Linked DNA regions of Homo sapiens. The protein of the gene in region 1 purifies or fractionates together with the protein of each later gene. This does not show direct contact. Each region holds a gene or a part of one and is shown in the gene's direction. Other genes may lie near its edges. The genes, in order: AMTN, IL37 and CLCC1.

The links.
Region 2: the proteins of AMTN (region 1) and IL37 purify together in Homo sapiens (affinity purification with mass spectrometry; one large-scale study listed by BioGRID and IntAct). This does not show direct contact.
Region 3: the proteins of AMTN (region 1) and CLCC1 purify together in Homo sapiens (affinity purification with mass spectrometry; one large-scale study listed by BioGRID and IntAct). This does not show direct contact.

Annotation. Positions count from the first base shown.
Region 1 is NC_000004.12:70,521,496-70,525,152, forward strand, and holds part of AMTN (amelotin isoform 1 precursor), read left to right. Parts: intron 1-1,259; coding exon 1,260-1,343; intron 1,344-2,372; coding exon 2,373-2,438; intron 2,439-3,376; coding exon 3,377-3,466; intron 3,467-3,657. UniProt on the Homo sapiens protein: Is a promoter of calcium phosphate mineralization, playing a critical role in the formation of the compact, mineralized, aprismatic enamel surface layer during the maturation stage of amelogenesis.
Region 2 is NC_000002.12:112,914,130-112,916,895, forward strand, and holds part of IL37 (interleukin-37), read left to right. Parts: intron 1-1,063; coding exon of another isoform or gene 1,064-1,130; intron 1,131-2,766. UniProt on the Homo sapiens protein: Immune regulatory cytokine that acts as a suppressor of innate inflammatory and immune responses involved in curbing excessive inflammation.
Region 3 is NC_000001.11:108,942,921-108,946,577, reverse strand, and holds part of CLCC1 (chloride channel CLIC-like protein 1 isoform 1 precursor), read left to right. Parts: intron 1-2,520; coding exon 2,521-2,742; intron 2,743-2,962; coding exon 2,963-3,103; intron 3,104-3,657. UniProt on the Homo sapiens protein: Anion-selective channel with Ca(2+)-dependent and voltage-independent gating. Permeable to small monovalent anions with selectivity for bromide > chloride > nitrate > fluoride.

The DNA of each region.
Region 1 (3,657 bases):
TACTATACTAACAATAGATTGTGGGAGATGAAAAGACTTACTTACAAAATTTATATATATTATATATATGTATTTTATGTATATATATGTATATATAATCTTAAAGCTGAAAGGGACCTCCTAGAACAGATAATACCAACCTCTCTTTTTTTTTTTTTTTTTTTTTTTTTTTTTTTTTTTTGTGAGACAGAGTCTCACTCTGCAACCTCTGGCTCCCGGGTTCAAGTGATTCTCCTTCCTCAACCTCCCGAGTAGCTGGGACTATAAGCGTGCACCACCATGCTCAGCTAATTTTTATATTTTTAGTAAAGACAGAGTTTCATCATGTTAGCCAGGCTGGTCCTGAACTCCTGACCTCAAGTGGTCCGCCCGCCTTGGCCTCCCAAAGTGCTGGGATTACACGGTGGCATGAGCCACCGTGCCCAGCCCCAACCTCTCCTCATAACTAAGGGGGAAATTCCAGCGTGAAACCAAAACTGCTCCAGGGTAACCTTAGATGACTCAAGGGCTGGTGCAGAGCCAGAGGGCCACACCCCTGTGCCTTCCAGGATGCCTCCAGGAGCAAAAGCAGATTTGGTCAACCTGGCAAAAGAGAAGTTTTTTTTTCGGAGACTAAGAGCACTTAGAGGGATCTAGCACTGGCTCTGCTGCTCACCATGTCACCTTGGGCAAGTTACTGTAAGCATCAGTTGCCTCATCTATTAGAAAAAAATAATACAACTAGACCAAATGTGTAGGAGGAATATTTTCATATCTAAAAATTCAGTGATTTTTAATACACTAATAAAATATCCAGGCCAGGAAGAAAAACTGAACTTCTGTTACAAGACCGATGTGGCAGGCATGGCAATAGTGGGAAGCTTCATGAAAAGGTAGTAAGAATGACGGCAGCTTACCTCAAGCCCTGAGAAAAAGCAAATGTGCACAGAGCTAAGGTACAGATTATATATTCATGTCCTGGCAAAAGAGAAAGAAAGGTACAGAAAAGAAATGGGAGCCAGGAACCACCACAAGACATCCCATCTGCTTGGGTTCATCCCAGCCCCCTTCCCTCCACACCATCCCACCCCTCCTGGGCTGGCATTTTTCCACTCTACATGTCCTACCATGCACATAATGTTTCAGGGAATCAAACTCCTCTAAAATACACAAAGCCTAAAAGATAGACATGTTTGCATTGGTGGCAACCTGGATATAAATGGACACAAAATCTTAAACACATTCCTGCCTCATCAAATATGTATTTGTTTTCACAAAAGCAGCTCAAACCTGCTTTGGGACTCCCTCCCACAAAACTGGCTCCGGATCAGGGAACACTACCAAACCAACAGCAGTCAAATCAGGTAAGAGTCCTACAATATGGAACATGTACAAACCGGTAAAGAAAATACGGAACATGTACAAACCGGTAAAGAAAACACGTTAAGACTGGTAGGTTTAAAATCAAAATTTACATGAAGACTGTACAAGACTGAACAAGAGAGAGGCTTTTCGTTTGGGAGTGGGGAAAAGAACCGATATAATTTTCTGAAAAATTTGAATAGGAAAAGTAAAGTACTCTAATTCTTTTTCCTTTTATCTGAATAATAATTTGGTTTAGCAGTGAAATCTAGTCAACTTTGAAAAGGAATACCTACGTCTGTTTACAAAGCTTGGTCATCTATGGACTTGAGGTACTGTGGCATTATCATATGCAGTATTTGCCAGCAATAGCAGGGAATCAGAGATGATCTATAAAAAATAACTGCAGATTTCCTCCTGGCTTTGTAAAGTTTCATTGTTGCTGATGTGTTGATGTGTTGCTGTTCAATCTGTTTCTTCAAAGCGTATTTAAATACTTTTGAAAACTGCATTATCTTTTGGCTACTGCCCTCCCTCCCACTTCAACTCTTCCTCTGCTGTGAAGGGCCATGGCTTACCTACTTCTACATTTTGTGAAGTAATATAATCAGATAACACTAGAGTCTAAAGTCTTCTCCTCAGTCAACAGAACACTCAAGTCAAGACCCATTCTCCCCGCTTAAGGAATCTGAATCTTATACAATTTGGGAACCTTCTTTAAGAAAAAGAATACAAAATTCGATATGTAAAATTAAGTACTGAAATAAATATTTATAATGTGATAAGAAATAACAGTAAATCACAAATTTTCTTAAGCTGATAAGTACCGTAAGCTTGAGACATTGCTAGGGCACCTCCCAGGGCCACAAAGGGAGCAATGCTAGTGAGAGGCCCCGAGGCTTCATCTTTATTTACCTTCATGGTAAACCCACCTCTGACAGGACTGTCAATTACATGAGGATATCCACCACTGACAGAGTAAGGGAAGCAGACAACCTCTTGTCTCATACATCACTTTCAATCCCCTGCAGGTCTTTCCTTCTTTAAGTCTGATACCATTAACACAGATGCTCACACTGGGGCCAGATCTGCATCTGGTAAGTGATTGTTTATATTATTTTAATACCCATTGTGAAATAAATATAATGCCTAATATTACAGTGGGGGGAGCATGTATATGGGTGCGTATATCCACAAATGAAAACACACATATACTTATTCACATAGATAAGTTGAAAGAGAGGAGAGAAGAGTCCAAGAGAGTTGGACATCATTAAACGTTTTTCTTAGCAAGAGAGTCTCTAAACAAATTAATCTAATTCTTTCCTTCTCCAGTTTCTCTAACCTCTTCTCCTCCTCTCTCCATTCCTCCACCATACCTTCTTTAATGCCCCTACAGCATCCACACATCCACATAAACACTATCACTGCTATTATCACCCACAATGACAGGAGCAAACTGGAAGAGACAAAGATCTTCAGTGTCTTCTTATAGAATATCTGTATAGATCTTCAGCCCTCTCATAGAATATCTGTGTAATCTGTTTGAGAAGAACAATAAGTTTCTTTCCTGAGTTAAAGTGGATTTTTTTAGTGGTCAAATTTAAATATAGCTCATGTTCCAGACAAAATATGTAGTCTGAACCTCATAATTTTCACGCATAACCTAGAGGAGTTAATTTCTTAATTGTAAAAAAGCTATCAGAAAATTTTCAGGAAGAATTGCTCTTGTAGCCAAAAGGGGAAAGCAAAGATAAAAATAAATCACTTAAGTAATTCTCAAACAGAATAGGTTAAATGCCAAAGAAAAACTTAACAGGGGAAAAGTTAGCAATAGCCCTTGTAGTCGTACAAGCAGACTAAATAAGTCTTTAAATTTCATCTTTGTGTCTAAGTATACATGCAATAGAACACTATGTATTTACATAGCAACTCCTTCCTTTAAATATATTTTACGTTTAGTAAAAACATTTTAGTTTCCTAAATGTCCAAACTGAAAAAAAATACAATGAAAGTCTTCTTCCTTGCCCTACAGTTAAATCCTGCTGCAGGAATGACACCTGGTACCCAGACCCACCCATTGACCCTGGGAGGGTTGAATGTACAACAGCAACTGCACCCACATGTAAGTTGAACAGCTGGACCTTAGTTTTAACATTAGAGAGCATTTTCTCTCAGGTGAAAGCCTACAGTAGAAATTTTTTAAAGCTTCTTGAAAATTTTGCCCAGATTATTAACTGACGAATGTTCTGCTGAACATAGACCAGTATTTGACAATCTGGTTCTTAATGAAAATTCATAAACATACCCAGAGAA
Region 2 (2,766 bases), on another chromosome or scaffold:
ACCATAGCCAAGAGACTGGAGACACAGACCTCCTCCCAGCACTGAGGACAAACAGCCATGGGGCCAGTGGGGGTGCAGGGACACCCACACCACTAAGGGCTCAGGGCGGCGCCTTCAGAGCCTGAACCTTCCTCTCATGCTGCCATTTGAACACCACAACACCCTAATAGGAAACTGTTAACATTGCCACTGTTCAGGTGTGGAAACCGAGACAGACAGTGGAGATTCCCTGCCCTAGGTGACACAGGTAATAAGTGACAGATGTGGAAATTTAAAGGTACTATAACGTCTGTCTGCCTGACTCAGGCTTAAGGCTCCCATCACCTCCTCTTCTCAGGACAGAGTCAGGAGGCCTCAGCCTGAGCCCCAGCTCTAGTGCAGGTTCATGTGGGAATACTGAGCCTCACTAGTACAATGGCAGAGAGGACCAAATGGGACCAGGTGTGTAAGGGTGCCTGGCACAGTTGGGGGAGGCTGCTGTCACTTCTCCACCGCTGCTGCTGCAGTTACCTTTGATGTTTTAGTTTTGTTGTAGTTACACCATTGCTGGCTTTGGATCTGCACTGTGTCCACTCCAGGTGGAACCACGCACACAAGCCTCTCTGTCGGGCCTGTCCTGACTTCTCCTTGTCAGGGCTGGGATCTCCTTCAAATCTGGCGGAAGTGGTTCTCCAAGTCTGGTCCTCAAACGTCAGCAGCATCAGCGCCTAGAAGTGTTAGGAATACACATTCCCAGGCCCCACCACAGACCTCCTGCCTCAGAAACTCAGGGCGCTGAGGCTCTAGGGGCTGCTTTAACAAGACTTCCAGGTTATCGTGACGCACCTTGAAAGTCTGAGAGCTACTGCCCTACAGAAAGTTACTAGTGCCCTAAAGCTGGCGCTGGCACTGATGTTACTGCTGCTGTTGGAGTACAACTTCCCTATAGAAAACAACTGCCAGCACCTTAAGACCACTCACACCTTCAGAGTGGCCTTGAGAAAGATTTGGGGTCAAGGATCATGAGCGAGAACACCACTTAAGAGGATAGTGAACTAGTCTGCATGTGAGACGCTGAGATCCTATGTCAGGCTGTGATAGGAGGGAAACAGAAACCAAAGGAAAGAACAGCTTTAAGAAGCGCTTAAGAGGTACAAAGTAAAATGATGGTGCTAGAAAAGTAGCTTCTTAAAAAGAGCATTTTCCAGTCTCACCCTGGACTAACTGAATGAGAATCTCAGGAGTGTGAGGCCCAGGTATCCATGGTCTTAAAATGCCACCCACCAGGTGATTCCCAGTGTGCACCAGGGGTGAGAGTCACAGCCTTAGGCCATGCCACTCAAAGGGTGTCTTCAGACCAGCAGCACCCACAGCTCTGGGAGTGCATCAGAAAGACAGAGGCTTGGCACCACCCACACCTACTGAACCATAGTTTGCAGGTGATTTCTTGCACATTAAAGTGTGGGAAATGGAAAAGCTTAGAGTTCAGCTAGCTCGGTGACTCTCAGTCAACCTGCACCTGCTCCATGAACTCAGACTGCCTGGGATGGGCCCAGAAAAGCTCCTGAGGAGATTCTGATGTAAGGCAGGGCTGATAACCATGGATCTCATCTGACCCCATATCACTGGGGAGTTACTTAGGATCTTGCCTGGGGCCAGTCATCTCTTCCATAGACACTGAGAGTGTCCACGATGCTTGGGGCACTACAGGGTGGGAGGTGGAGGATCACGGGTGAGTCAGATAGGAAGCCTGCTCCTGGGGAGCTTACAGTGCTATAGGGCAGCGAGCCAAGGATGCCAATACCTGTGTGCAGGTACCACTGACGAGTGCAGAGCGCTGCAGCACCAGAGAGGAAGCTACCCTGTGCAGAGGGGGCTGAGGAGGGCTGCAGGGAGATGACAGGAAAGCCGGTGTTACAGGAGGAGTCCTCCCCACTCTTTGGGCATGAGGAGACCAGGAGGACATTCTACAGTGAGAAACCCAGGCAGAGGCCATGTGCTTATGGCATGGGAAAAGAATGACACCTTAGACTTATTCTCTACATTAGAATTGCCTACCACAGATACCCATATTATAGCTTCACATAGTGTGGTGGTTACTGTGTTTTCATATTGTCACATTTGCCATTTTCCAGCCACCCACCCATTCTTGACAGTCACTGGCCCAGCCTGGGGGCCCCTGTTCTTTATCAAACAAGTGCCTGAGCTCTTTGCAGAGGTGAGGGTCACCTGTCCAATCAGAGGCCAGGAGGGAACGTTCCCTTTTAAGACCCTACTCTAGGCAGGCCTGGCCCAAATGAGTTGCTAGGAGCCCACGCCCTAAGAACCCTCTGAGCACTGTTGTGGCTGGTCCTGCTGCTAGAAGTTGTTCCTCCAGGGCCAGGTGCAAGATTTGTGGCTTTTCAAAGGAGCCACTAAAGCTCCAGCTCAGCCTTGCACCGTGCTGGGCTCCTGGGGGCTTCCTGCCTCCAACCCTCCCAACTCTTCCATCACCGCTCCCTTAGCCTGGCCAGTGCAGGGATCTGTTCCACTCTAGGCACTGCTGAGGGAATGATGCCTCCAGTCAGAGGGTGCAAAAAAGAGAGTTAAGAAAAACAATGATTATAAAAAGTCCTTTTTATACGCCAGACATTTTCTTTGCTCAGGCTAAGTGCTACTTATTTGAGTAAGCATTTTAGTTCTCATAACTCCTCTCTCAAGTAGGTGCTGCTATTACTTTCATTTCACAGATGAGGACATTGAGGTTTGGAGAGACTTAGTAACTTGTCCTCTGTCCTACAGCAGAGC
Region 3 (3,657 bases), on another chromosome or scaffold:
GCACAGTGTAGGCTGGCAAAACTTGCCATATACTCCATCTTCCTGGTACAGTAAGAAGTGACCAAAAGAAAAAGGAGTGTTAGATGAATAACGCCACCTTATTCTGGAAATGTAGAAGCAGATGCGTTCTCATACGTACACTCTGTAATTTGAGCCTTACAGCTACGTACAGGGTGGAACAGAACCTAGATAAGGAAACAGATGGAACCAAAAATACTTAAGATGGAAATGCTGGAAAATATTTAGTTTCTGATTTTTTTTTTTTTTTGAGACAGAGTCTTGCTCTGTCACCCAGGCTGGAGTGCAGTGGCGCAATCTCCGCTCACTGCAAGCTCCGCCTCCCAGGTTTACACCATTCTCCTGCCTCAGCCTCCTGAGTAGCTGGGACTACAGGCACCCGCCACCATGCCCGGCTAATTTTTTGTATTTTCAGTAGAGACAGGGTTTCACCGTGTTAGCCAGGATGGTCTTGATCTCCTGACCTCGTGATCCGCCTGCCTCATGCCTCCCAAAGTGCTGGGATTATAGGCATGAGCCACCGCGCCCGGCCACGTCTGGCTAATATTTTTGTGTTTTCAGTAGAGACAGGATTTCACCATGTTAGCCAGGCTGGTCTCAAACTCCTGACCTCAAGTGATCTGACCGCCTCGGCCTCCCAAAGTGCTGGGATTACAGGTGTGAGCCACCATGTCCCACCTTGTATTTACTGTTTATAAAAGAAAAAGGAATTTTATTTGTATCAACTGGCTAATTAATGCAAAATTTGTTTAGTGATTTTGCTAAGCTGAACTCACACTAATAAAGGTAGTTATAAATATGTAATTTATGGAAACCCATTATTTTGTTGCTCTTTGAGATCCTTCTTGTTTTTCTTGTTTGCACTAATACAGATTTTAGGCTATCTGAAAACTGTCAGGAAATGAAAAGTCATGCAGTGAATCATAAAATGAAGATGCACAGTTGATCCTCATTCTTCACAGATTCCGTATTTATGAATTGACCTCATTAAGTCTGTGTAACCCCAAAGTCAATAATCGAGGTGTTCTGTGGTTACTCTGGGACACAGTGAAGAGTGGTAAAAAATTTGGGTTGCCTGTTGCAGGCATTCCCAGCTGAGATGGAACAAGGCAATCAAAACTGTTTTCTTGTTTCAGCTCTCGTACTGCAAACAAGTGTCTTTTTTTGTGGTCTATTTAGTGGTATATTTTTTCGTGCTTTTTTGAGGGGAGAGGGGTGATTTTTTTTATTTTTATTTTGAGACCAATCATTAAACAGCATCATTTCGTTGTTTAAAACGGCCCTCTGATGTAGTGCTGAGCTGAGGTCTAGTGTTTCTAAGTGCAAGAAGGCCACGATGTACTTACAGAGAAAAGGAAAAGGTGTGTATTAGATAGGCTTCAGTCAAGCGTAAGGTATAGGACAGTTGTCCATGTGTTCAGTGTTAGTGAATGAACAATATGTATTTTAAATAAGGTGTCCTTAAACAGGAATGTACAGAAACACACATAAAACAAGGTTATATATTGATCAATTGATAAAAATGTTATGACAGGTTTGCACGAACCAAACCCTGTATTTATTATAGGAGTAATGGTTCAGTACTTGCTAATTGGTGTTTGAGGTGACTTTATAGAAGATAACTACTGTGAGGCCGGGTGCAGTGGCTCACGCCTGTAATCCCAGCACTTTGGGAGGCCATGGCGGGCGGATCATGAGGTCAGGAGATCGAGACCATCCTGGCTAATGCGGTGAAACCCCGTCTCTACTAAAAATAGAAAAAATTAGCCAGGCGTAGTGGCGGGCACCTGTAGTCCCAGCTACATGGGAGGCTGAGGCAGGAGAATGGCGTGAACCCAGGAGGTGGAGCTTGCAGTGAGCAGAGATTGCGTCACTGCACTCCAGCCTGGGCGACAGAGTGAGACTCCATCTAAAAAAAAAAAAAGACGATAACTACTGCGAATAGCAAGAATCAACTGTATTTTAGTGAAATTTACAGTATCTTTTTTACATAGAGTTCTAGAATTTTTAAATGTTTTTCATGTATATTATCTTTGGTTTTCATGTTGGCCTGTGAAGACAGGTGGATATTATTATTATTTTTTTTTTTTAGAGACAGGGTCTTACTCTGTCTCCCATGCTGGAGTGCAGTGGTATGCTCATAGCTTACTGCAGCCTCGAATCCGGGGCACAGACAATTCTTCTGCCTCAGCCTGCTGAGTAGGCAGGAGCCAGGTGCACACCACTGCACACAGCTAATGGTTAGAATTTTTTGTAGAGATGGGGTCTCGCTTTGTTGCCCAGGCTGGTCTTGAAGTCCTGGCTTCAAGCTATCCTCCCACCTTGGCCTGTCAAAGCACTAGGATTATAGGTGTGAGCTACCTTGCCCAGGCTATTATTCTTATACATATGAAATACTGCAAACTAATATTTAGTTCCAAATTGGCTTTTGTCTTAAAATGGTTCACCAAGTAGTAATAAAATTCTCTTTCTATTGTTTGTTTTTTGGTAAATTTAATTTAGCCTGATGAAAACAAAGGCGATATGCATTATGATGCTGAGATTATCCTTAAAAGAGAAACTTTGTTAGAAATACAGAAGTTTCTCAATGGAGAAGACTGGAAACCAGGTGCCTTGGATGATGCACTAAGTGATATTTTAATTAATTTTAAGTTTCATGATTTTGAAACATGGAAGTGGCGATTCGAAGATTCCTTTGGAGTGGATCCATATAATGTGTTAATGGTAAGATGGGATGAGGGCAAGGGCAACGTCATTAAGTTTCCTTTTTAAAATACTTTCCAAACTCCACCATAATTACGTTAAGAACCTGTACTAGGTCACTTATACCGTATTGATGAACAAGCCACAAAATTGTAGAAATGATTTTGTGCTTTTGAGTCCAGTTCTTTTTAGCTGTCTTAAGTGTTTTTGGTGGCTGATTTCTGCTTCTCTCTGTTTTAAGGTACTTCTTTGTCTGCTCTGCATCGTGGTTTTAGTGGCTACTGAGCTGTGGACATATGTACGTTGGTACACTCAGTTGAGACGTGTTTTAATCATCAGCTTTCTGTTCAGTTTGGGATGGAATTGGATGTATTTATATAAGGTATTATATGGATGGAGGGTTTTACAATTTTAACACATTTATTCACAATGAAAGAAGACTCTAATCCATTGAGAGCAATCTTGCCTTGGATGTGGGTTGGAGGCAGTGATTAGAGGTGGCCCACGCTGGAGAGGAATTAAATGGACACTTCTTAGCTGACAGTTTTTTGATTCCTTGACCAGTTAGTGGGTAAAAAAGTTCAGTCCTAATTTTCATAACCCAGTTAATGTTAACATTTGGGCATCTAAGTCAGAATAAAGCCAGGTGGGTTGGGTGTGGTGGCTCATGCCTGTAATCCCAGCATTTTGGGAGGCTGAGGTGGGCAGATCACTTGGTCAGGAGGTCAAGACTAGCCTGGCCAACATGGTGAAACCCTGTCTCTACTAAAAATACAAAAATTAGCTGGGCCTGGTGACGTGCACCTGTAGTCCCAGCTACTCAGCAGGCTGAGGCAGGAGAATTGCTTGAACCTGAGAGGTTGCAGTGAGCCAAGATTGCGCTGCTGCACTCCAGCCTGGACCACAGAGTGAGGTCTGTCTCAAAAACAAGGAAGA